Homo sapiens: one gene and its partner. The protein of the gene in region 1 purifies or fractionates together with the protein of each later gene. This does not show direct contact. Each region holds a gene or a part of one and is shown on either strand. Other genes may lie near its edges. The genes, in order: TM4SF20 and HSDL1.

The links.
Region 2: the proteins of TM4SF20 (region 1) and HSDL1 purify together in Homo sapiens (affinity purification with mass spectrometry; 3 studies listed by BioGRID and IntAct, with this or other methods). This does not show direct contact.

Annotation. Positions count from the first base shown.
Region 1 is NC_000002.12:227,359,129-227,371,049, reverse strand, and holds the end of TM4SF20 (transmembrane 4 L6 family member 20), read left to right. Parts: intron 1-69; coding exon 70-135; intron 136-4,805; coding exon 4,806-4,957; intron 4,958-7,037; coding exon 7,038-7,326; 3' UTR 7,327-9,012; downstream 9,013-11,921. UniProt on the Homo sapiens protein: Polytopic transmembrane protein that inhibits regulated intramembrane proteolysis (RIP) of CREB3L1, inhibiting its activation and the induction of collagen synthesis.
Region 2 is NC_000016.10:84,130,413-84,142,333, reverse strand, and holds part of HSDL1 (inactive hydroxysteroid dehydrogenase-like protein 1), read left to right. Parts: intron 1-2,076; exon of another isoform or gene 2,077-3,111; intron 3,112-6,728; 5' UTR 6,729-6,790; intron 6,791-11,006; 5' UTR 11,007-11,012; coding exon 11,013-11,232; intron 11,233-11,902; coding exon 11,903-11,921.

The DNA of each region.
Region 1 (11,921 bases):
TGAAGATTACTATTTTTTCTTCTGATGAGAAGTTATAATACTCATCTTTCCTGTTGATGTCATTTCCAGGCCATTCCAGCAACAACAATGTCCTTGACAGCAAGAAAAAGAGCGTGCTGCAACAACAGAACTGGAGTAAGTATGAAGCAGTCGGCGTGGAAGCAGAAGTGCATGAACAGTTATTGCTACCTAAGCAAAGCCACACTGAGTCACTCGCATCTACCGAATCACAGTGGGGCTCCACTGACAGAGCCACAGCCTTAGAAACATGCTATTTTTATTTATTTATTTAGAGACAGGGTCTTGCTCTGTTGCTGAGACTGGAGTGCAGTGGTGCGATCTCGGTTCACTGAAACTTCTGCCTCCCGGGATCAAGCAATTCTCCTGCCTCAGCCTCCTGAATAGCTGGGACTACAGGTGCACACCATCACGCCCAGCTAATTTTTGTATTTTTAGTAGAGATGGGGGTTTCAACATGTTGGTCAGGCTGGTCTCAAACTCCTGACCTCGAGTGATCTGCTCGCCTCGGCCTCCCAAAGTGCTGGGATTACAGGTTTGAGCCACTGCGCCTGGCCTGAAACATGCTATTTAGGATGATTATATAGAAGTAGAAAAAGTGAGACGGGTTTTTTTGTCCCACAAACATTTAGAGTTGGCCTTCTGTCCCTTCCTCAGTCTTCCGTGGATTGTCCTTTCCTCAATCTAAAGGTTTTCAAAGAAAGGAGATTGGTAAGTCACGCCCACAGCTGCAATCAATTTCATAATACTCGGGTGTGATATTTTTGTGGCGTATATAAAATACTCAGGGAAAATGTACTCAGTTCTCTCATGCAATGACAGACTGGTTTGCTAGGATTAGAATGACAATTGCCTTTATCCAGTTAAATTAAAGGAGCTGCCAGGTTTTTTTCCCCCAAAACATTTAATGCCTACCCACTATGTATAAAGTCGTAACGAAGTTAAAAGTAAATTAAGATTCATTAACCGGAGTGTCACTCTGCTCAGAACACTTTCAGAGATGCTGTTTCATTTAATTCTCTCAAAACCCTTAAGTGGGAAAAAGTAAGAAGTGTGTTTGATTGACGAAGGAATGGACGCTCAGAGAAAGTAAATAATTTGCCAGTGTAGCACACTAGTAAGTGGATTTTTATCCAAACCCACTGGAGCACCCCACAATTCATGATCTTTATACCATGAACATGGCTATTAAGCAACATAAGGACTCTCACAATTCCCTGTGGAAGGGGTAGATTGACAGCAAGCAGTCACAGTAAATCTGCTTGGCTGAGCTTGAGCTTTCAGAGCAATGGTTCTCAGATGGATGGGAACATTAGGCTGGGCACGGTGGCTCACAGCACTTTGGGAGGCTGAGGTGGGAGGATCACTTGAGGTCTAGAATTCAAGACCAGCCTGGCCAACATGGTGAAACCCCGTCTCTACTAAAAATACAAAAATTAGCTGGGCACGGTGGCCCATGCCTGTAATCCCAGATACTCAGAAGGTTGATGCAGGAGAATCTCTTGAACCCAGGAGGCAAAGGTTTCAGTGAGCCGAGATCACATCACTGCACTTCAGCCTGGGCAACAGATGAGTAAGACTCTCTCAAAAAAAAAAAAAAAAAAGACAGATGGGGATATTAGAATTATCTAAAGAGATTTAAAAAAATACCAGTGCCTGGGTGGCCGCCAGAGATTCTGCATCAGTATTTTTCAAAAGCACTCAAGATAATTTGGCCAGGGGTTAGAACCACTACTTAAAAAAAACAAACCAGATATTTCTATCCATAATGGAAGATTCATATTTTTAAAAATTACCCTTTTTCTGACATTTGATATTTATCTAGGATTACAATAATTATGCTAATTAGTTCTAGTCTATTTTTGTCTGAATACATTTTAGGTATTCAATAAACACTAATTTTCAGTTTCCCTTCCCTGTCACTTTTCTTTGTAAACGATAATAATTTGGAATTTGACTTTGTATCTTTTCTATGTGGTGTTCACAACATTCTTGACATCCTGAGACATTTCTGAATTCCTGAAATCAAAAATATCAAAACACTTATATAGGCTTTTCCGATAGGTGTATCCTCTAAGAACTGGTTTTTATGTCGTATCTGGTGTCTTTGAGGCCTAGATAAGACCAAAACATGAGACAAGTGGCAAAGGCAACATCTTGGGAGGAAGGGAAAGGGTTGACCAAGGCTTGTCCCCTATTTTAACTGTTCTTTGCTTCTTCCCTTTTTCCAGTTCTTATTTTTGCTTCTGAATACAAAATGGTTTTGCTGAATCATTTAAGTGAATCCCCTTTAGGGGAAATACACATGCCTGGAATCACTTTCTAAAGCCAGGCCTTTTGTAGGGATGAGAACTCAAAGATAATATGGCTGGGTGCGGTGGCTCACGCCTGCAATCCCAGCACTTTGGGAGGCTGAGGTGGGCGGATCACTTGAGTTCAGGAGTTTGAAACCAGCCTGGCCAATATGGTGAAACCCTGTCTCTACTAAAAATACAAAAAATAAAAATAAAAAAATTAGCCAGGTGTAGTGGCGGGCATCTGTAATCCCAGCTACTTGGGAGGCTGAGGCAGGAGAATTTCTTGAACCCAGGAGGCAGAGGTTACAGTGAGCCCAGATAGCGCCACTGCACTCTATCCTGGGAAACAAAGAAAGGCTCCGTCTCAAAAACAAAAAATTATATATATATATATATATAAATAATAGATGGCGGCCAGGCGTGGTGGCTCACGCCTGTAATCCCAGCACTTTGGGAGGCTGAGGCGGGCGGATCACAAGGTCAGGAGATGGAGACCATCCTGGTTAACAGGGTGAAACCCCATCTCTACTAAAAATACAAAAAATTAGCCGGGCGTGGTGGCGGGTGCCTGTAGTCCCAGCTACTCAGGAGGCTGAGGCAGGAGAATGGCGTGAACCCGGGAGGCGGAGCTTGCAGTGAGCCGAGATCATGCCACTGCACTCCAGCCTGGGCGACACAGCGAGACTCCGTCTCCAAAAAAAAAAAAAAAAAAAAATAGATGGTTAAAAATAAACACCATGGCACTTCTTGATGAGTACATTTAAGTAACTGCACAAGTCACAGTAGCATGGAAGAATCAGGATTTGAAGTAGACTCCAAATCCATCATTCTGAACTTTTGGCTGGAAGAAGAATAGTGATTAAAGTGTTTCCCAGCTGTGAGAGCCTGACAAGTTTTGTCCATCTCCATGATACACAGTTTTCTCATCTATAAAATGGAAATAATAATAGTATCTACCTCTTGGGATTATGAAAAGAATTAAATGAGATGATATATGTAGAGCACAACATCCCTCAACACAACTCTATAGGTAGCCACCTTATTCTGCACTCATAAAAGGCAGGTCTCAAGAACACAACACACAGACCCTGTGGGAGCTGCATTATCCCAGCAAAGAAAAAGGAAAAGCATTCCCTCGCTTCATTTCTGCTGATTTTGAAATAATCATCAGTGACTAACAACTTCACTGAAACAATACAAAAGTTTCCTTCTTTTTTTTTTCTTTTAGAGATGGGCTCTTACTACGTTGCCCAGGCTAGTCTCGAACTCCTGGGCTCAAGCAATCTACCCTCCTTGGCCTCCCAAAGTGCTGGGACTACAGGCATGAGCCACTGTGCCTGGCCTAAGAGCTTATTTTTGGAAAAACAAACACGAACTTTCATTCAGTTTCCTATGCCAAATTCCATGCCTTCTTCTGCTCTCATGACTGACTCACGAAATAAAGATGTGTACAATCTTTCTAACACAGTGGCTCTCAACCGGCGGGTTATTTTACCCACCCACCTCCACCCCAAGAGGATATTTGGCAATGCCTGGAGACATTTTTGGTTGTCAGAACCGGGCTGGAGGTGGCAAGGCGTCGGGGGATGATATTGGCATCTAGTGGGTAGAGATGAGTGATGTTGCTAAATATCCTACACTGCACAGGAAAGGCCCCACAGCGAAGTGTGCAAATGTCATTGGTGCTGAGGTTGGGAAGTCCTGTTCTAACTCTATGCTGTTGACTGATCACTGTGGGATGCTGGCCACTGGCCACTTAAAGCATCAGGGCCAAATTCACTTAAAGCATCAGGGCCAAACGCTTGCGAGCCAAGAGACCAGACATGAAGATAAACGTAGTTAAGATCCAGTCAAGATTCTATGAAGTAGGAAGTACATAAAACAGGGAGGAACTAGATCTCAGTGGTCAGAAGAAACAGATGAGACTCAGGAATATGAAAGTTGAGATTTTCCAGAGACAGTGACAAGCCAAACCATCTTTTTTTTTTTTTTTTTTTTTTTTTTTTTTTTTTTTTTTTGACAGAGTCTTGCTCTGTCACCCAGCAGGAGTGCAATGGCACGATCTCGGATGACTGCCTCCCGGGTTCAAGCGATTCTCCTGCCTTAGCCTCCCAAGTAGCTGGGATCACAGGCATCCACCACCAAGCCTGGCTAAGTTTTTGTATTTTTAGTAGAGAGGGGGTTTTGCCATGTTGGCCAGGCTGGTCTTGAACTCCTGACCTCAGGTGATCCACCCACCTTGGCCTCCCACAGTGCTGAGATTACAGGTGTGAGCCACCATGCCCAGCCCCAACCATCTTTTATTGAGTGTAATCAAATAGCAGAGACTGCCCTCTGCCTTTTTGTATCATTCACACCTAATAAACTGTGATCTTAAGATCCAGGATTTTAGGGCGACTGGATTTAAAAAAGACTGTATACGCTCCTGAAGCTTGAAACAGATCAAGAACATGTCATAACATGTGCAAATGGCTCTATTTTATTTTTCAGATGTTTCTTTCATCACTTTTCAGTGTGATCACAGTCATTGGTGCTCTGTATTGCATGCTGATATCCATCCAGGCTCTCTTAAAAGGTCCTCTCATGTGTAATTCTCCAAGCAACAGTAATGCCAATTGTGAATTTTCATTGAAAAACATCAGGTAAGTAACTTGATTTTCACAGGCTTACTGTCTCACACAGTTGAACTAGTTTGATTAGATTAATGCAGTACTGGAACAATGCCATGTTTTTATTTGATGCAACTGCCGGGACAAACGGATTCTTAGGAATTTTAGTACATTAACGCCAGTTAGCACAACTCCACATCAAAATGGAGGAATCATTAGATTTACAATGCTCTAAAAGGACTTTTAGATATTGTCTAAAAGGACTAGTTGATCTCAAATGGCTTATGCTTGTCTTTCAAAAATCTACAGTTACATATGTGTATGTATATTAAAAAATTATGCAAATATACACCAGAAACTTAACTTTCATCCTTGGAGAATGGAAATAGGGGATTCCCTTTATGAGAGTGAAGAGAACATTTACTTTCTACACTTCTGAACTAATTAAATTTGTCAACCATGAGCAAATATTACATTTACAATTTAAAAAATTTAATAAAAACACAATAAATAAAATGCAGAGCCTTGCCTGTAGGCTTAAATGGAAGAGCAACCAATGGATTCATACAGATATGCTATAAATATACTGTATGCATGGGAATGAATCCAAATTTTAAGTCATGTAATAACAAGTAATACTGGAGAGTTACATGTACTTAATAAGTGGCTCATTTTAGTCTTTTAAGTACATCATTCTGTGACTGAATCTAGACACAATTTGTAAAAACTGGAAGAAAAAAACTATCTAATCCATTACCTCTCTGTATAGCCTGCTCAGTTTAGCAAATAACCAGAATTTACTTTTGTAGTTACATACAAAAAATTTTTTCTCCTTTTCCCTTACCTTGCTACATTAAAAAAGAAAGTCCCTCAAATTTTGTGTAGCATATTTGTTTTGAACCAAAACCCAAGGAAGGCCAGGCACAGCGGCTCACGCCTGTAATCCCAGCACTTTGGGAGACCAAGGCAGGTGGATCGCTTGAGGTCAGGAGTTTGAGATCAGCCTGGTCAACATGGTGAAACTGCATCACTACTGAAAATACAAAAATGAGCCAGGCGTGGTGGCACGCGCCTCTAGTCCCAGCTACTCAGGAGGCTGAGGCGGGAGAATTGCTGGAACCCAGGAGGCGGAGGTTGCAGTGAGCCAAGATCAAGCCACTGCACTCCAGTCTGGGTGACAGAGTGAGACTGTGTCTCAAAAACAAAGCCAAGGAAAGTCTCCTTGCTAATAGACTTGAAGTAAAGGGTTAAAGATTTCTACCACAGATGCTATGCACATTAAATCCCCAGGGAATGACAACAGCCCACAATGTACCAGGCACCAGGCTACGCTCTGCAGACAACAGCGCTCAGATATTCTCAGCCTAGTTGCGGAGATGGGCTAGGCTAGCAAAGTTACAAGAGAGTGATCCTTGGCTTGCTACACATTTCACAAAACACTCATATTCCATGTGCTGAAAATACTGTTGTTTTCCCAGGTTGAATGTCAGTTGCTGATATCCAGCAATGCAAACTCCCTAAGAACATTCCATTTTACTCTACAGTAAACAAACAAAAAATCATCTTGAGATAGATGTATTAGGGCTAAAAGTTTCTCATTTTCCACAGCCCCGTTAAGAACAGGCACATCACTTTAATCAGACATATTTAATCAGTAAAAACTGTACATCTGGTTGAAGAACGGACGCCACGCTGTAGTTCTGCACTAAGAACTGAGCTCATTTAATGGGGGTGGCGGGGGGTAGGGGAGGCTCCTTAGTTTTTATATCTAGCAAGTAGAAGAGTATCTGAATAAATAAAATAAATAGGTTGAACCACGAAAAACTGTTGACATTCAACTATTTCTGACATCCCAAAACAGCAGTTTCATACCGTTCAACCTAAGAGAAGATGTACCATAGAGATGCTTGTTAAATGATGGGCTATATAAGTAATAAAAGTTTTGTAACTAGTAGAGTATATGGACACATGCTCAGAAACCCTGATCTCTGTCATTTCTGGGCACGATATTTCAAAAGTACATTCGTTTCACTCATTCTTTTATGTGCACAATGCTACTTTCCTTTGGTCAGGGATATTTCTGAATATCTGATTTTTATCTTTTGTTTTTCAGTGACATTCATCCAGAATCCTTCAACTTGCAGTGGTTTTTCAATGACTCTTGTGCACCTCCTACTGGTTTCAATAAACCCACCAGTAACGACACCATGGCGAGTGGCTGGAGAGCATCTAGTTTCCACTTCGATTCTGAAGAAAACAAACATAGGCTTATCCACTTCTCAGTATTTTTAGGTCTATTGCTTGTTGGAATTCTGGAGGTCCTGTTTGGGCTCAGTCAGATAGTCATCGGTTTCCTTGGCTGTCTGTGTGGAGTCTCTAAGCGAAGAAGTCAAATTGTGTAGTTTAATGGGAATAAAATGTAAGTATCAGTAGTTTGAATTAATTTGAGAAGTACACTTGTTTTCAAAGTCATCTTTGAGATGATTTAAAAAATCAACCCTTCACGTAGAAAGCACGTTGTAAATGCATAACACTCTCATATCAGTGGTTGATTTGGGAAAGGTGGAGAGAATTTTCAATTAGTTTTGTGTTGTACTATTCAAATTTTTTACCTCTTCACTGTGTGTAGAGAAAGGAGAAGGGAAGGAGGATGAGAAGGAACGGAAGTCATCCTGAAAATAAAAGTACAGGACTTTTTTTTTTTTTTTTTGAGACAGGGTCTCAAAAAAGGCTGGAGTACAGTAGTACAGTGGTGCTATCTCAGCTTACTGCAGCCTCAACCTCCTGGGCTCAGGTGATTCTCCCATCTCAGCCTCCCTAGTAGCTGGGACTACAGGTGCGTGCCACTATGCCAAGCTAATTTTTGTATTTTTAGTAGAGATGGGGGTTTTCCATATTGCCCAGGCTGGTCCCGAACTCATGGACTCAAGTGATCTGCCTGCCTCAGCCTCCTAAAGTGCTGCGATTACAGGCATGAGCCATCGCGCCTAAAGGACAGGACCTTTTTATTGTATTTCTTTAAAGAATAAATACATAACCTGAATGCAATCAAGTCTTTAGATCTAATTCTCAGCTTGCAGGGAACACTAGGACAAATCCAAAAAGTGGGTCAGCGGGCACAGAATGGCCCAATTTTCAACAGGAAAATGTTATAAAAGAAAAATATTTTTGAGGGAACTGTTATAGATTAAGAGAATAGAGGCATGTTTCAGCTAAACACATGTAAACTTTGTCAGAGATAATTGGGAGGAGTATGTAGAAGAATCGGATTATTGTTAATTTTGGTAGGTCTGATAATGGTTTTATAGTATAAAGGCTGAGTACCCCTTATCCAAAATGATTAAGATCAGAAGTGTTTTGGCTTTCACATTTTTTTGGATTTTGGAATTTTGCCTATAATAATGAGACATCTTGGGGATGGGATGCAAGTCTAACCACAAAATTCATTTATGTCTCATACACACTTTGAACACCTGGCCTGAAGGTAATTTCACACAATATTTTAAATAACTTTGTGCATGAAACACAATTTTGACTGCATTTTGACTGCAACTCATCACATGAGGTCAGGTATGGAATTTTCCACTTGTGGTGTTACGTTACTGGCTCAAAAAGTTTTGGATCTCGGAGCATTCTGGATTTTGAATTTTTGGATTAGTGATGCTCAACCTGTATACAGAAATGTCCTCATTTTTAAAAAAAGAAATGCATATTTATATGTTTTAAAATTACTTCAACCAAAAGCAACGGGGAGATGTTTACTGTTATATTTAGGTGACAGGTACATGGCAATTCATTATACCCTCCTATTTTCCTATGTTTACATTATTCATTAATTAAAAAACAATACCTAGAAAAACCCAAGACTTTCAAAAGCTATTTTCTATATGTGCCAATCTTTAAAAAACAGGATAACAAGGGTATTTATCACATTAAAATGTTGTAAAACAGCAAAGCTAAAAATCTAAAATTTTCTGAATGTTATTTCTATATTTCAATTGTTTATGTTCATTGGGCTTAAGGTTCCAGAAATAATTTGCAGTACCTACATTATAGCTGCCTAAATAAATTTAGTAACATCAAGAGCTTATAAGCCTTTTTTCTGAACATTTACTATATAAAAACATTCTTCCTACACCCCTACAAATACTTACTTGTCCTTAAGGCCTAGCTTAAGTATCTCCTACTTGAGGAAGCCTTCCCAGTGCTCATGATCCAATAAACCAAGTCAGCACTTACCCAAGCCTCTATTATCATTCCTGTCATAATGTAACATACATGTGTTTGTACGTCCATCACTATAGTATTCAGGAGCACAGGAACCACGTTCATCAGCCCTCACCTCTTCAGGTCCTTAGCAACGCCTCTCATTTCCCCACCTCCAGCCCCATTCCTACCCCCACCTGCCTTATCTCTGGCAGCACTCTTTATCCTTGACTTCAGCACAAATACCACTTTTTCTGAGAGGCTATTCCTAAACGTCTAATGAAAACTAGGTTTCCCTTTACTCTTTTACCATGCTTTCATTTACAGCATTTATCACAATGATGATTGCATTTTCCTTTGTGCTTGCTTCTTAAATTTCACTGTCCCCCATTAGACTATAAGCTCCAGGGGTACAGGAACATGTTTATTCCCTCCTGGTATAAAGAGTACTTAGTACAGTGCCTGGTACAAAGCAGAAACATTGCATTTAGTTGAATGAATTAATGAATCCTATCTTCAGTACTCAGCTTTTAGCGAAGACTCGATACTTACTCAATGAACTGTCAAACTGCTAATGGTCATGTAATTAAAACAAAAATAAGACAGCTCACTGTACTCTAGTGAACAAGGGTCAGCAATGGTGCTTACAAATTTTCTCATCACCCCCCAAAATATTTATGCCATGTACTTTCCCCAAAATGTGACTTCATTAATTCAGCCAGTGACCAGAGTATCCTTACATCAATGAGTAAATATAAAAACTTTATTGGAATAGCATGTTAGCAGCAGTGAACAGGGCATGGCACAGAAGGTTTCCAAAACAAGTTTAGCATGAAGGATGCCATATGCTGTTGCCAACAACTAGAACACGGTGACTAAAGACACAGTTCTGAATGTCCAGCACAACCTCTGGCCTGCAACTATGTTCAGTGATGATGATAAACAAGGTGGTGACTTGGAAGGAATCCCTATGTCAAGTGAGAAAAAAAAATGATGTCTGACCTCCTTATATATGTAAAAAATATACCTTCAGAGTCCGTCAGTAAGCTGGAAGAAGTGGATGTTGAAGTTTTTAACATCGATGATGGGTCTCCAGTTGTTCATCAACCCATGGTGAAATAGCTGAACGGTTCTGAATCAAAGGTGATCCTAATAGTGAAGACATTAACATTGCAGAAAAAGTGCCTACAGATTATATGGTGAAAATACGTGATGGGCTTCTTGAAGGACTAGAGCAGTGTGTATTCAAAACAGAACAAGAAATCACGTCAGTTTATAAAAGCAAAGAGAGGTTTCTCAGACAAAAACATTGTTCATGAGGTAGATGACTCTGGAAGAAATACTTTAAAAAGCCACTGAGAAGAATGCCTCGTCTCCACAGGATCCACTTCCTAGCCTCTCAACTGCTTCTCATGTTTCTTCTCACTGAAAAAAATAGTGTCCAGTAATCTTTACTCCAACAGTACCGCCAGTGGGGACAGGAAACTTGCCGTGGCTGTTCTTGGTTGTGGCTGTTGTCTAACAGCTGGTGCAGTATCTGGTGATGCCCCTGTGCTGCTTAGTTACTTGAACGCAGTTTTTTCACTGTATTAATAGTGTGTCATTTTTTAATGTTAAGTATTTATGTGTGAAAAAGTGTTAAGAAAAAATGACTGTTTATTGGCAGCATATACACTCAGAGTCAGGAATGATAGTGATGGCAAAAAACCCGACTGTCCACATGCGTGGCTGAGATATCACTATGACATCTTTGCTTTTTGCTTTCTGATGGTTCAGCATACACAAACTTTGTTTCATACACAAAATTTGAAATATTGTATAAAATTATCTTTAGGTTATGTGTAGAGGGTATGTATGAAATATAAATGAATTTCATGTTTAGACTTGGGTCCCATCCTCAAGATATCTCATTATGTATATGTAAATACTTGAAAATCTGAAAAACTCTGAAATTCAAAATACTTCTGGTCCAAAGAATTTTGGATAAGGGCTGGGCAATCACTATAGTTAAGGAGCTGGAAACACACATTCATGCAGGAAGGAAGGAAAAAGGAAAGCTCTCTTGAAAATATACTACTTCCATGATGTTATCCTTCAAAGTGTAAACAACCTGCACATACTTCAACCATAATTACTAGAAGTGGGGAGAAGGGTGCACTTTCAGTAGTGCAACAATATATTTGCTATACTTAGTTGTATGATACGACTTTGGCTCCTGACTGTATCCATTTCTCCCTCTATCATCTGCACCTGGAATATTTTCTTGTTCTTTCTCTGCTTGTTGAAAGGCTCAGCTCAAATATCTGGTTATACTAACCAGGAACTAATTTGTTCTTCTCAACTCCAAAATATATTTCAACAGTAATTAACAATTTTTAGGGGAAGTACACAGGTGTTTAATAGAGATCCTAACTTTGGAGTTAGAGAGATTCAAGCTTTTCTACTTCTAGATATGTGACAAGGTCAGGTAAGGCAGGTTTCTTGGTTGTCCCCTTTTGCACTGTAAACAGAGTTTTCATTCACCGTCTGTTGGGGTCTTAGCTTCATTCACGAGTCTCCTGTTACAGCTGGTGCCTGCCTGAGGTAGGGAAGTCGATCTTCTACCCCTTGCACAATCATTAAGGGAGAAAGCTCCAAGTGTCCATTCTTTGGTAAGAATCATGAGGGAAAAAAAGGGCTTCCGCACTTCTCTCTCAGTATTCCTGCTTTTATTTCATTTTTTGACCTTTGTGGAATCCTTTTCATGTCTGTTTATCAAAAGATACTAACCTTATCCATCATTTTTCTTCAT
Region 2 (11,921 bases), on another chromosome or scaffold:
CGAAAAAATTTCTTCATGACCTGAGGCTAAGGAGGGATTTCTGAAATAAAACAAACCCTAAAGCAGAAAGATTGATATATTTGTCTCTTTCAAAATTAAGACATTCAGCCAGGTGCAGTGGCTCCCACCTGTAATCCCAGCACTTTGGGAGGCCAAGGCAGGTGAATGGTTTGAGCTTACGAGTTTGAGACCAGCCTGGGCAACATGGTGAAACCTCATCTCTACACACACAAAAAAAATTTAACTGGGCTTGGTGGTACATGCCTGTGTCCCAGCTACTTGAGATGCTGAGGTGGGAGGATGGCTTGAGCCCGGAAGGCGGAGGTTGCAGTGAGCTGTGATCATGCCACTGCACATCAGGCTGGGCAATAGAGCCAGACCTTGTCTCAATAATAATAACAACACATTTAGTTCATGAAAGACACTATAATGAGACACAAAACATACAGAGAGCTAGTATCTAGAATATTTAAAGAATTCTTACAATTCTGAGAGAAAAAAAAGGAAAGGACAAAAGATAGGAACGGGCATTTCATAGATTACAAAACACAGAAAGCACATACATATAAAAAGGACTGCAGCCTTACTAGTAACCAGGGAAATGTAAATTAAAACCATAATGAGATACCATTTCACAGCCACCCTGTTGGCAGAAGGTGAAGCTTTGGACGCTACCAGCCAGTGACATTGAGGAGTGGCACGAACCTGCTGCTGGCGGGAGTGTGAATGGGTTCTGCCGCTTTGCAAAAGCATTTGGCAGTGGAATGCATGTGGACCAGCAGTTAAACCATGGGCAAATCCCTTTGCGAACTCTTGCACAGGTGTGCAGGAGATGGGGACAAGCGCTCCCTGCAGCACTGTTCCTAACTGTAAATCAAAACCAGCAGAAACAGTGCACGTGCCTAGCACCAGCAGCAGGGGGACCTGTGAATCGTGGTGTATCTGAACCAGCAGCAGGGGGACCTGTGAATCGTGGTGTATCTGAACCAGCAGCAGGGGGACCTGTGAATCGTGGTGTATCTGAACCAGCAGCAGGGGGACCTGTGAACTGCAGTGCATCTGAACCGTGAGATACTGTGCAGCTGCCGAGGAGGATGGACTATATAGCTGCAGGGGCATGGATGAGTCTCGGGAATGATGTTGAGTGAAAGAAACAAGTCACCAAAGGGTCCATGTGGTGTGGTTCCTTTATGTGAGGTTCAAAACCAGGCGAAACTTAGCAATACTGTTTTTTTTTTTGTTTGAGACGGAGTCTCGTTCTGTCGCCCAGGCGGGAGTGCTGTGGCGCGATCTCCGCTCACTGCAAGCTCCGCCTTCCGGGTTCACGCCATTCTCCTGCCTCAGCCTCCCGAGTAGCTGGGACTACAGGCGCCCACCACTGCGCCCGGCTAATTTTTTGTATTTTTAGTAGAGACGGGGTTTCACCGTGGTCTCGATCTCCTGACCTCGTGATCCGCCCGCCTCGGCCTCCCAAAGTGCTGGGATTACAGGCGTGAGCCACCGCGCCCGGCCAGCAATACTGTTACTGTTTCAGAATACATGCTTGGGGTATACAGCTGTTTTGTTAAAAGAGTCAGGGAGTGACTACCCCAGAATTTAGGAGAGAGGCTGCCTCCAGGATAGAGGAGGGGCTGTAATCAGAGGAACAGCATACAGGACTTCCACGACACTGGTTTTGTTAAGTAGGCTGGTGGCTAAGTGGCTGTTTTATTATTCTTTGAACTGTGCATAATAGGTTTTACATACTTTTGTATATATTTAAACATTTTTGCCAGGTGCAGTGGCTCACGCCTGTAATCCCAGCACTTTGGGAGGCCGAGGTGGGTGGATCACTTGAGGTCAGGAGTTCAAGACCAGCCTGACCACCATGATGAAACCCCATCTCTACTAAAAATACAAAAATTAGCTGGGCATGGTGGAGGGCACCTGTAGTCCCAGCTACTCGGGAGGCTGAGGCAGGAGAAACGCTTGAACCCAGGAGGCGGAGGTTGCAGTGAGCAGAAATTGCACCATTGCACTCCAGCCTGGAAGACAGAACAAGACTCGGCCTAAAAACAAAAATTTCTTTTAGTTACAGAAAAATTCGTTTTCTATACATCTCCTGCCCTCCAGAGGCCTGTGCTCTCCTTGGACAACCAAGAAACCAAGATATAAGCAAGTTGAGTGTTTAAATAGAATCCAAAGCAGTGTGTGCTAAGTGCCACATGGGTAAGAGAGGTGGAGAGGAATTCAGAGGTGGGGGCAGTGCCACGGCCTGGGAAGGGAAGGGACAGGAAGGGAAGTTTCTCCCCAGGGCTGACATGTTGTTGGTGCTTGTTAGGAAGTGATTGAACGGAGGAGAAGACATGGGACTTGAAACGTCAGGAAGAACAGAGGATTTGGAGTACTGAGCACAAGACAGATTCACACTCTGAAAAAATTAAGATTTATTTGGAAAAATGTTTTCATCAATGAAAACAGCCATCGCCCTGGAGCCTTACTGAAAAGCTGGATAATCCCAGCTGGTGAGGAGGAGGACCTCAGGTCTACCCTGGTCAGTCAAAGATGGCAGGAACCTCTGAGACTTTCTGGCTCCTGAATACACATAGTGGTTTTGGCTTAAGGGAGGTTGCAGAGTTTTCAGCTTGTCTCTTCGCTGTCCTGAAAGCTGAACTGACTGTTCATCCATCCCTTCCTCCCACTGTTTATCCTTATCCCCTGTGGCTGATGTAACAAATTGCCACAAAGGTAGTGGCTTAAAATGACACAGATGTCTCTTCCTTCTGGAGATGGGAATCTGAAGTCATTGTGACTGCGCTAAAGTCAAGGTGTCAGCAGGGCTGTGTTCCTCTGGAGGCTCCAGGGGAGAATCCTTTTCCTTGCCTCTGCCAGCTTCTAGAGGCCACCCCCCGTCCTTCACTGGTGACCCACCCCTCTCTCTATTATCGAAACCAGCAGCACAGAGCACCCTCAACTCGAGCTCTCTCTGACCTCTCCCTTTGTAGTCACATGGCTCTCTCTCTTTGATCTTCCTGCCCCCCTTACAAGGACACATGATGACATTGGACCCACCCTCCCCAGCTCGGAGTCTTTAACTCAGTCACATCTACGGAGTCCCTTTGGCCACATAAGGTGACGTATTTACAGGGTCTGGGGATTAGGCTGTAGATATCCCTGGAGGCCATTACTGTGCCCACCACACTGTCGTTCGCTAATGCTTTGATTGTCTTTTTTTCCATCCTGCTTGCTTTGTCTTCTTTAAAACCCTGGCCAGTCTGCCTTGTGTTCTTTCACCACCCGCCCCACGTCACACGCATTTGGATAGCTTGGTAATGTCCATGTTTCAGCCAAGACTTTCCTCCCAGAACTCTTGGTACATGAAGGTTTTTCTATTTGAGTTGATTGCCCTTTACACTGCTAGGTGGAGTCCCCTTCACTGTGGAGTGGGATCATGTTACAGGCCACAGCAGTGGTGCTTTGAAGAGGTGACTTTGCTACTTGCAGTTTTGACCATAATTGTCCCGTGACGCTTTTGTAGTTGTAACGTTTCCTGTAGGTTTTTGATGACTCCTGCCCTGTAGAAGTAGAAAATGCTTAAAAGATAATAGGGACTTGCTCTTCTTTTCCTAGTTTGGGGACAGTTGTGGTTTTGTTTTGTTCACAGATGTTTTAGTTTTCTGCAGAGATGAGAAAACAAAGCTTAAAAATTTTTTTAAATTATTTTATATTTTTCCAACTTCATCGAAGTATAATTGACAAATAAAATTATATAAATTTAAGGTGTACAACATGATTTGATATATGTATACTTTGTGAAATGATCACCACAACCAAATTAGTTAACACATTCATCACCTCAGTTACTTTTTTATTTCTTTATGGTGAGAACACTTGAGATCTACCCTCTAAGCAGATTTTAAGCCTACAATTTGGTATTGCTCACTATGGTCACTGTACTGTACATTAGCTCTCCAGACGTATGCATTTTATATTTGAAAGTTTATACCCCTTTGACCAAAACTTCCCACCCATGACCCCACCTCTAGCAACCACCATTCTACTCTCTGTTTAAGAAAATAAAGCTTTAGAATAAGTTCTTGCAGGTAGATTGTACATGAATCAGAATTTTACTGTGTTTTAGTATTGCTTTCCACATCATGGGTTTCTCTAGGTTGCAGGCTGCCTTAGTTGGTTTTGAGCTGCTATAACAAAATACCATGAACTGGGTGGCTTGGAAACAGCAAACACTTACTTTTCGCAGTTTGGGAGGCTGAATGGTCCAAGATCAAGGTGGTGGAGCCCTCATTATCTGATCGCCTCCCAAAGGCCCTCCCTTCTAAACCATCACCTGGGGGGTTAAGATTCAAGACAAGAATCAGGGAGTGGGGCGGAACGCTCAGACCGTAGCACAGGTTAATAGCTTTCGCTAATCAAGCCACAAAACAGTAACTAGTCAGATACCTAAAGTAACTTTGACGAGGCTTGTTATCTACATATGCCTAAGTGGACTTCTAGGCTTAAATGTGTGATAAATTCCTTTGAAAGTTTCAGTGAGAGGCTATGAGCTTTTGAAATTTGGTGGCTCTGGGGAAAGTACTGATTTCTTTTGTCATGAGAAAAATGTTATTTTCCATCATGTACAGAAGGGTGGGGAAGAAGATTGAGAGCAGGGAATGAGTTTTAATTTCCAGTTCTCTAACATCTTTGGCCCATCAGGGTGTGAGTGAATGTGTGAAGTGTCTGGCAAGGCTGAGGAGCAGCAGAGGCCACAGAGCCTTGGCTCTCCGTGTGGCCCTCCTTCATCCCCAGCTGAGTAACCAGGGCTCAGGAGCCCCCCTCCTCCCCTGCTGCGTTACCTTCCTAAACAAGCCCCACCAGCTCCCTCCCTTGGTGCTCAAGGAGGAGGTCCATGCACTCCAGTCTGGCGTGAAGGCATCTCCAGTCTGCCTCTCCCAGTCTCCTTCACGCCTGTGCGCCTGCACACATGGGGCGTCACACAGGACAGCACAGCCTGTGCTGTGCATGCGGGGGACTTCCTAATGTTTCCCGAGTAGGCCAGACCCTTGACGGTGCCGAGCCTTTCTCCATGGGCCCGGGCCAGGGAGGTCCCTTCCCTCCTCTCTGCCCAGAAATTCTGCTCACACTTCAAGACCCATTTCACCCCAGTGGCGCCCTTGCCACCTCATGTTGCAGTTGCTCCGTTTATCTTTCTCTGACTTCTGTGTATACCGGGTGGCACGGAGTCCTGGTTTATTCATGATGGTGTCCTCAGTCTCTGACACTTTGTATTTTTCATTGCTGTTCTAGAAGTTTGGTTTTCCATGTAGATCTCGAGAGACTGTAGGACCAGTGACCGTGTGTGTTTAGGCCTCTTCGCTGTGTTGTTCACTATCCATTCCTAACTTGGCATTTGAATGTATCAGTCTTCTGTGGGTTTTGTGGATGTGAGTCAGATTTCTTTGTCTTGAGCTGCCTCTAAGGAATGAAGAACTTGGGTTTCTATCCATCAAGGCTGAGGACCAGACCTTGAATGCCATCAGCCCCCCTGATGCTCTGTGATTTTTAAAATATACATAGCAACAATAATATTAACACACGTTTAAGGTACTTGCACACGATGGCGCTCCCCTGACAAGAGGTGAGGGGTGTCTAGTGGGGGCGTTGAGAAGCTGGGCCATGATGGGCTTGAAGCCCCTCAGCCCCAGGTTCCTGTACTCACCTCTGCAGTGGGTGCATCTCCTCTGCTGGCCTGAGTGGGAGGTCCCTGGTGGGTTTAGCACACAAGCTTTTCTTTCTGTAAAGGATCAAAGGAATTTGTGGGTGGTCCGCTCCTGAGCTGAGGGCTGAGCGCTGGACAGGAAGACTGCCTGTGAGCTGCAGCCAGAGACTTGGTAGTGTTGAGCTTCTTTGTGCCAGGAATTGTGGAAGGTGCTGGAGAAACAGAGAGGAGTAGAATCTGGCCTCTGCCCTGGAGGACTATAGCCTGCTGGGGTGGTCAGAGACAGAACAGTTGCAATGCAGTGTGTGTGGTGGAGGAGAGGGAAAATGTGGACCAGGGGTTTCCTTTCATTTCCTCCTTAAAGCATCTGACCCACTCACAGCCTAGGGGGGCTGCCCCCAAACACTGTAGGACGCCTTCCTCCCTGCCACCCTGCCAGGAGATTAGACAGGTGGTGGGCACCTGAACTAAGGTGGGCGAGCCAGAATCCCTGCCAGGAATTTGGAAAGAGAAGCCAGGGCAGCCCGTGGCAATGTGGATGTTCCAGGGAACGCTGCAGGTGGAGCTGAAGAAGGGGTGTGCAGAGTGAGGCAGTGGGAGGCCCAGGTGAAACCCAGACAGGCACCAGGCAGAAAAAGGCACCGAGGACAGCTGTGGCTGCTCTCTTCCCCGATGCCGGCCTGGTGCCTGGGCGGTGTTTCCCCAAGGGCTCCTGGGATTGGAATGGGCTTTTGTCCCATTTGATGAAATGTTCCCTAGGAAAAAAGGCATAGGAAAAGGGGGCACCCTCCAGCTGTGCCTGAGGACGCATGGACTGTGCCCCCAGCAGACGCCAGGCGCTTTTCTTATTCTGAGAGGAGGGTACTTGGTGCCTAGTACATGGTTTGCTGCCTCTACAGAGATTCATGGCGTAAGAATTGTTGTGTTTTCTTAATTTTTGAGCACTTGGATGTTACTTTAATGTAAAGTTTTCCCAGCTGAACTATGAGGAAGAGGAAAGGCATTTGTTTCTTGTTGGTTTTATTCACAGATTGGCCTTAAGAGAAGGACGGAGCCACATACTGCTGACGGCCCAGAACTGGCAGAGAGAAGGTAAGAGACCCCAGGGCAGGGAACGACCACAGCAGAAAAACTGGGGCCCCCTTTGTGGTCAGGCGCCTTTTGCTAGACATTTACTTCAAAAAGGTTCAGATTCTTGAAAAAAATCGGGCTTAAGGAGGAAGCTTCCATCTGTGTGGGTTCCTCCATGAGGCATGCCTGACCTCCTTTTTGTAGCGAGAGCCTTACTCTATAGGCTTGGAGCAACTCATTTCCCCACAAATACTGCTTTGGCTACAACCCATTGATCTTGATATGTAGTATCTGTTTTTTCTTTCTTTTTTTTTTTTTCTTTTTTCTTTTTTGAGACGGAGTCTCCCTCTGTCGTCCAGGCTGGAGTGCAGTGGCGCGATCTTGGCTCACTGCAAGCTCTGCCTCCCCGGTTCATGCCATTCTCCTGCCTCAGCCTCCTGAGTAGCTGGGACTACAGGTGCCCGCCACCACGCCCTGCTAATTTTTTGTATTTTTAGTAGAGACAGGGTTTCACCCTGTTGGCCAGGATGGTTTTGATCTCCTGACCTCGTGATCCGCCCGTCTCGGCCTCCCAAAGTGCTGGGACTACAGGCGCGAGCCACCGTGGCTGGCCTGTAGTATCTATTTTTTCATTGAAAACACTGTTTTAACAGCCTAGATGTATGCCTACCTGTTATTAGAAGAATAAGCTTAATATTCCAAGTGTCTAGGTTTCTTTAGTCATAGCTTGTTATTCCCAATTTTATTACATTTTGCTTGAGAGGTCCTGGTACATACAGGTAATTACATACAGGTAATTGTTTTTGCATTTACTTTCCTCATGGCCTTGTGTTTGATTAGTTATGACAAAAGGCACCCACACTTTTTATGAGTTATTTCCGGAACTCACAATTTAGGATGGTCTAACATAGAATCTCGGTTGTTTTTTTTGTTTGTTTTTTGGGGTTTTTCTTGAGATGGAGTCTAACTCTGTCGCCCAGGCTGGAGTGCAGTGGTGCAATCTTGGCTCACTGTTACTTCCGCCTGCTTGATTCAAGTGATTCTCCTTCCTCAGCCACCCAAGCTGGGCAGTCACCACCATACCCGGCTAATTTTTGTGTTTTTAGTAGAGATCAGGTTTCACCATGTTGGCCAGGCTGGTCTTGAACTCCTGACCTCAAGTGATCTGCCCACCTCGGCCTCCCAAAGTGCTGGGATTACAGGTGTGAGCCACCGTCCCTGGCTGGAATGTCAGTTTTTAATGTTCTTATAGGATATTAATGTTTTGGGCCTGTCTTTGGGAGTCCAGTACTTATGACTGTTCAAGGGCTACAGCCAGTGTGAAAACTCTGATACCGTGCCCGTCATCAGCATATCCAGCAGCAGGAGGGTTGTGGGAGGGGTGGTGGCGCGGCTTCCTCTCATGCAGATCTGGAAACAGGTATGCTCGTTCGCTACACTGAAGGGGGGGCCCTAACTTTGAATATATTTCAAAGGATTGTCAATCAAAGGATTTGGGAGCAGTAAGGGGTATTGGTGACTGCTGTACGGAAGATTGCTCAGAAAAAAGAAAGACTTTGTTGAACTAGACAGCTCATATTTTAGGTCATCTCAGCCAATCTGGTTCATAAAGAAAAATTACCCCAAAGGAGCATTTATTTTAGTTGTTTTTAGCTTAAGTATTTGGTTTATGTACTTAGTCAAATTTAAAATGTTTCCTTTTCATGATGAACTTTGGCATTCTCATTGTGGGAGGTGAGTTTCTGTGCACAGAGCCCCAGTGGACAGCATTTTACCTGTAGGGAATAAAGGGGCCCAACTTTTCATTTGAGGAAAACTTTTTTGTTTGTTTGTTTCGAGATGGAGTCTCACTCTGTCGCCCAGGCTGGAGCGCAGTGGCATGATCTCGGCTCACTGTAACTTCCTCCTCCCGGGTTCAAGCAGTTCTGTGCCTCAGCCTCCCAAGTAGCTGGGATTACATGTGCCCACCACCATGCCCAGCTAATTTTTGTATTTTTAATAGAGACGAGGTTTCACCATCTTGGCCAGACTGGTCTTGAACTCCTGACCACCTGCCTTGGCCTCCCAAAGTGCTGGGATTATAGGCATGAGCCACCGCGCCCGGCTGAGGAAAACATTTTTTAAACTTAATGCCACATTGGCTTAATTTGGTAACTTAATATAGCAGCAATATCAACTTAATACGGTACCAGTATGAAACTTTCTTTTTTAGAGAGATTGTTTCCTTATCGTAGGGCATTTAGGAATCCTACTGCTTCTCCATTTCTTCAGTTTTCAGTCATATTTCTTGTGTACGTTTTGTTGATTTGTAATTCACACTACACATTTATATATATTTATTCAATAGTTTTAAAATTATTTTATATGCCTTTTATCACAATATGGTGCCATTCTTGTATGTGTTCCGTTTCAGTGGTTCATTTGTTTTCTTCTGCTTGGTTCCTTTTTTACTTTGCAAAACTTTGTTGAGCTCAGATTACACTGCAGTGGAGTAGGAGGGAATTCCCCATTCTTTCTCAAACTTAGGCTAATTTGTGCTGCTATTGTTGGGTATTTTCTTAGTATCCAGACTTTTTTTTTTTTTTCTATTTTAAAGGGATTTCTTCAAAAGTTGCCACCCCCAGAAGTTTTATATTTCTTTTTCTTTTGGCTTAAAATCATGTTCTTTTTAGAATATAAGCTGTGTCCTTGGGTTTGTGTGTATCTGAGTTCCCTGTAATATAAGTGTAGTCTATTGCAGTTGTTTTGATATTTTGTCTTTCGCAGGATGCACACGGTTGGTTTAGCCTGATATGAAGTCCACTCACTCGGTCTGTGGCCAGACCCCCCATGCCTGGCCTTTGTCTACTTCTGCAGGGTTATCTCTGATTGCAGGCACACACCTACCACATCATGTGGCATTTTACATTATTTTGTTAAATGTCTGCGTCTTCACCTAGGGACGGTCATTTAGTTCATCTGTGAATCCTTTGAATCACAGTACATAGAACATAGTAGGTGCTTAGTATATACTTGCTATGTGGACACTCAACAGAGTTGTGTTGGACTTTTCTTTCCTCAAATGTAAGAGACCAGGCAACATAATGGTTACAAATTAAGTTAGAAGATGGAGGAGTGCTCCCTCTATTGTCATTTGAGAAGCCATTTTTCCAAGCTTGGAGGGTATCTCTTTAAAAAAAATTTTTTTTTTAATTGATGTAAAGGTTTTTGAAAGCTGAGTTTTGTCTCCAGTGGATTGTAAGCTTTTGAGGCCAAGGCCATGTCTTAGTGCCACCTCTGTTTCATCTCCTTTGTCCCTACACAGGTAGTAGGTCCTCCATTCTTGCTGATTATGAATAAAGCAAAGAAATACATGTACCTCTGCTGTATGAATTAGAAGCTTTGTGTTTGTTATTATTAGACTAGGAGCATGTTACAGGCACAGAGCATATTGTGTTTATCTCTGTAGCCACAGCATGTAGTGTAGTACCTGAATTTTAGTGGGAATTTGGTAACTTCTGGTAGTTATGTTGATTAGTCTCCTTGGAAGAAAGTAACTTTATAAGCTACGGATGTTAAATGGTGAGATCATAAATTGGCTGAATCTCCAGGCATGGTGGCTCACACCTGTAATCCCAGCACTTTGGGAGGCCAAGGGTGGCGGATCACCTGAGGTCAGGAGTTTGAGACCATCCTGGCTAACGCGGTGAAACCCTGTCTCTACTAAAAATACAAAAAATTAGCCGGGCGAGGTGGCGGGCGCCTGTAGTCCCAGCTACTCCGGAGGCTGAGGCAGGAGAATGGCGTGAACCCCAGGGGGCGGAGCCTGCAGTGAGCCGAGATTGCGCCACTGCACTCCAGCCTGGGCGACAGCGAGACTCCGTCTCAAAAAAAAAAAAAAAAATTAGCCGGGCGTGGTGGCATGTGCCTGTAGTCCCAGCTACTTGGGAGGCTGAGGCAGGAGAATCGCTTGAACCCGGGAGGTGGAGGTTGCAGTGAGCCAAAATCGCACCACTGCACTCCAGCCTGGGCGACAGGGTGAGACTCTGTCTGATAGATAGATAGATAGATAGATAGATAGATAGATAGATAGATAGATAGACTGAAACTGTGAGCCACGTACATTTGAAAAGTTAGTGTTATTTGAACGTACAATTGACAAGATCTGATGCCCTCAGCTGGATGTCTTCACTCAGACTGTGTATGTTCCTTTAATTTATTAATCAAAGAGGCTCTCTCTCTTTCCCTCTCCCTGCAGGTTGCCATGGCTGCTGTTGACAGTTTCTACCTCTTGTACAGGGAAATCGCCAGGTCTTGCAATTGCTATATGGAAGCTCTAGCTTTGGTTGGAGCCTGGTATACGGCCAGAAAAAGCATCACTGTCATCTGTGACTTTTACAGCCTGATCAGGCTGCATTTTATCCCCCGCCTGGGGAGCAGAGCAGACTTGATCAAGCAGTATGGAAGATGGGCCGTTGTCAGCGGTAACCTACTTTATAATCAAAATAATCTTTTCTGTGAAGTCGGATGCATTATTCAAGGAGCTATTGAATTTAATGTGGTGTTTTTATGGGAACATGCTGATAAAAAAATAAAACTTATGGCTCCTGCCGTGATTATGTTCACATTTCATTTTCTTACTGCTCTCATCTTAGGAAGAACTGGCCTCATGATTGGTATCCTTCCTATTCTGCTCTCTCCTGTTCCCAGTCCTCCTCCAGACCCACTTCCTACTATGTGCTTTTCCTTTTTGTTCTCTGTTTTAAAATTGTCTTGAAAGTGTTGCCACTTTCAGAAATGCTTCACCTATTTTGAATTTCATTTTAATTTATGAAGATTTCCCAGAAAAGCACCTCCTGCCACTCATTCAAGCCAGATAGTAGTTTGAAAACAAATTCCTACTGTGTCTCCTAACCAATATGGTGAATGTAAAATAACTCCCTGTCCGTGTGTCAGGATGTCTGGGAGAGTGTATAGCATGCGCCCTTCACATTCCTCATTCAGCAACAGTGTCCTTGACTTGTAGATACTAGAACCGACTTGATTTCTAGTGTGAATTTTTCTCTGACTAAACCTGACAGGGGGTACTTTGGGTCCATTTTAAGGGTCACACCGTGAAATACACATGCTCACTTTTCCTGACTTGCATCCTAGGTGCAACAGATGGGATTGG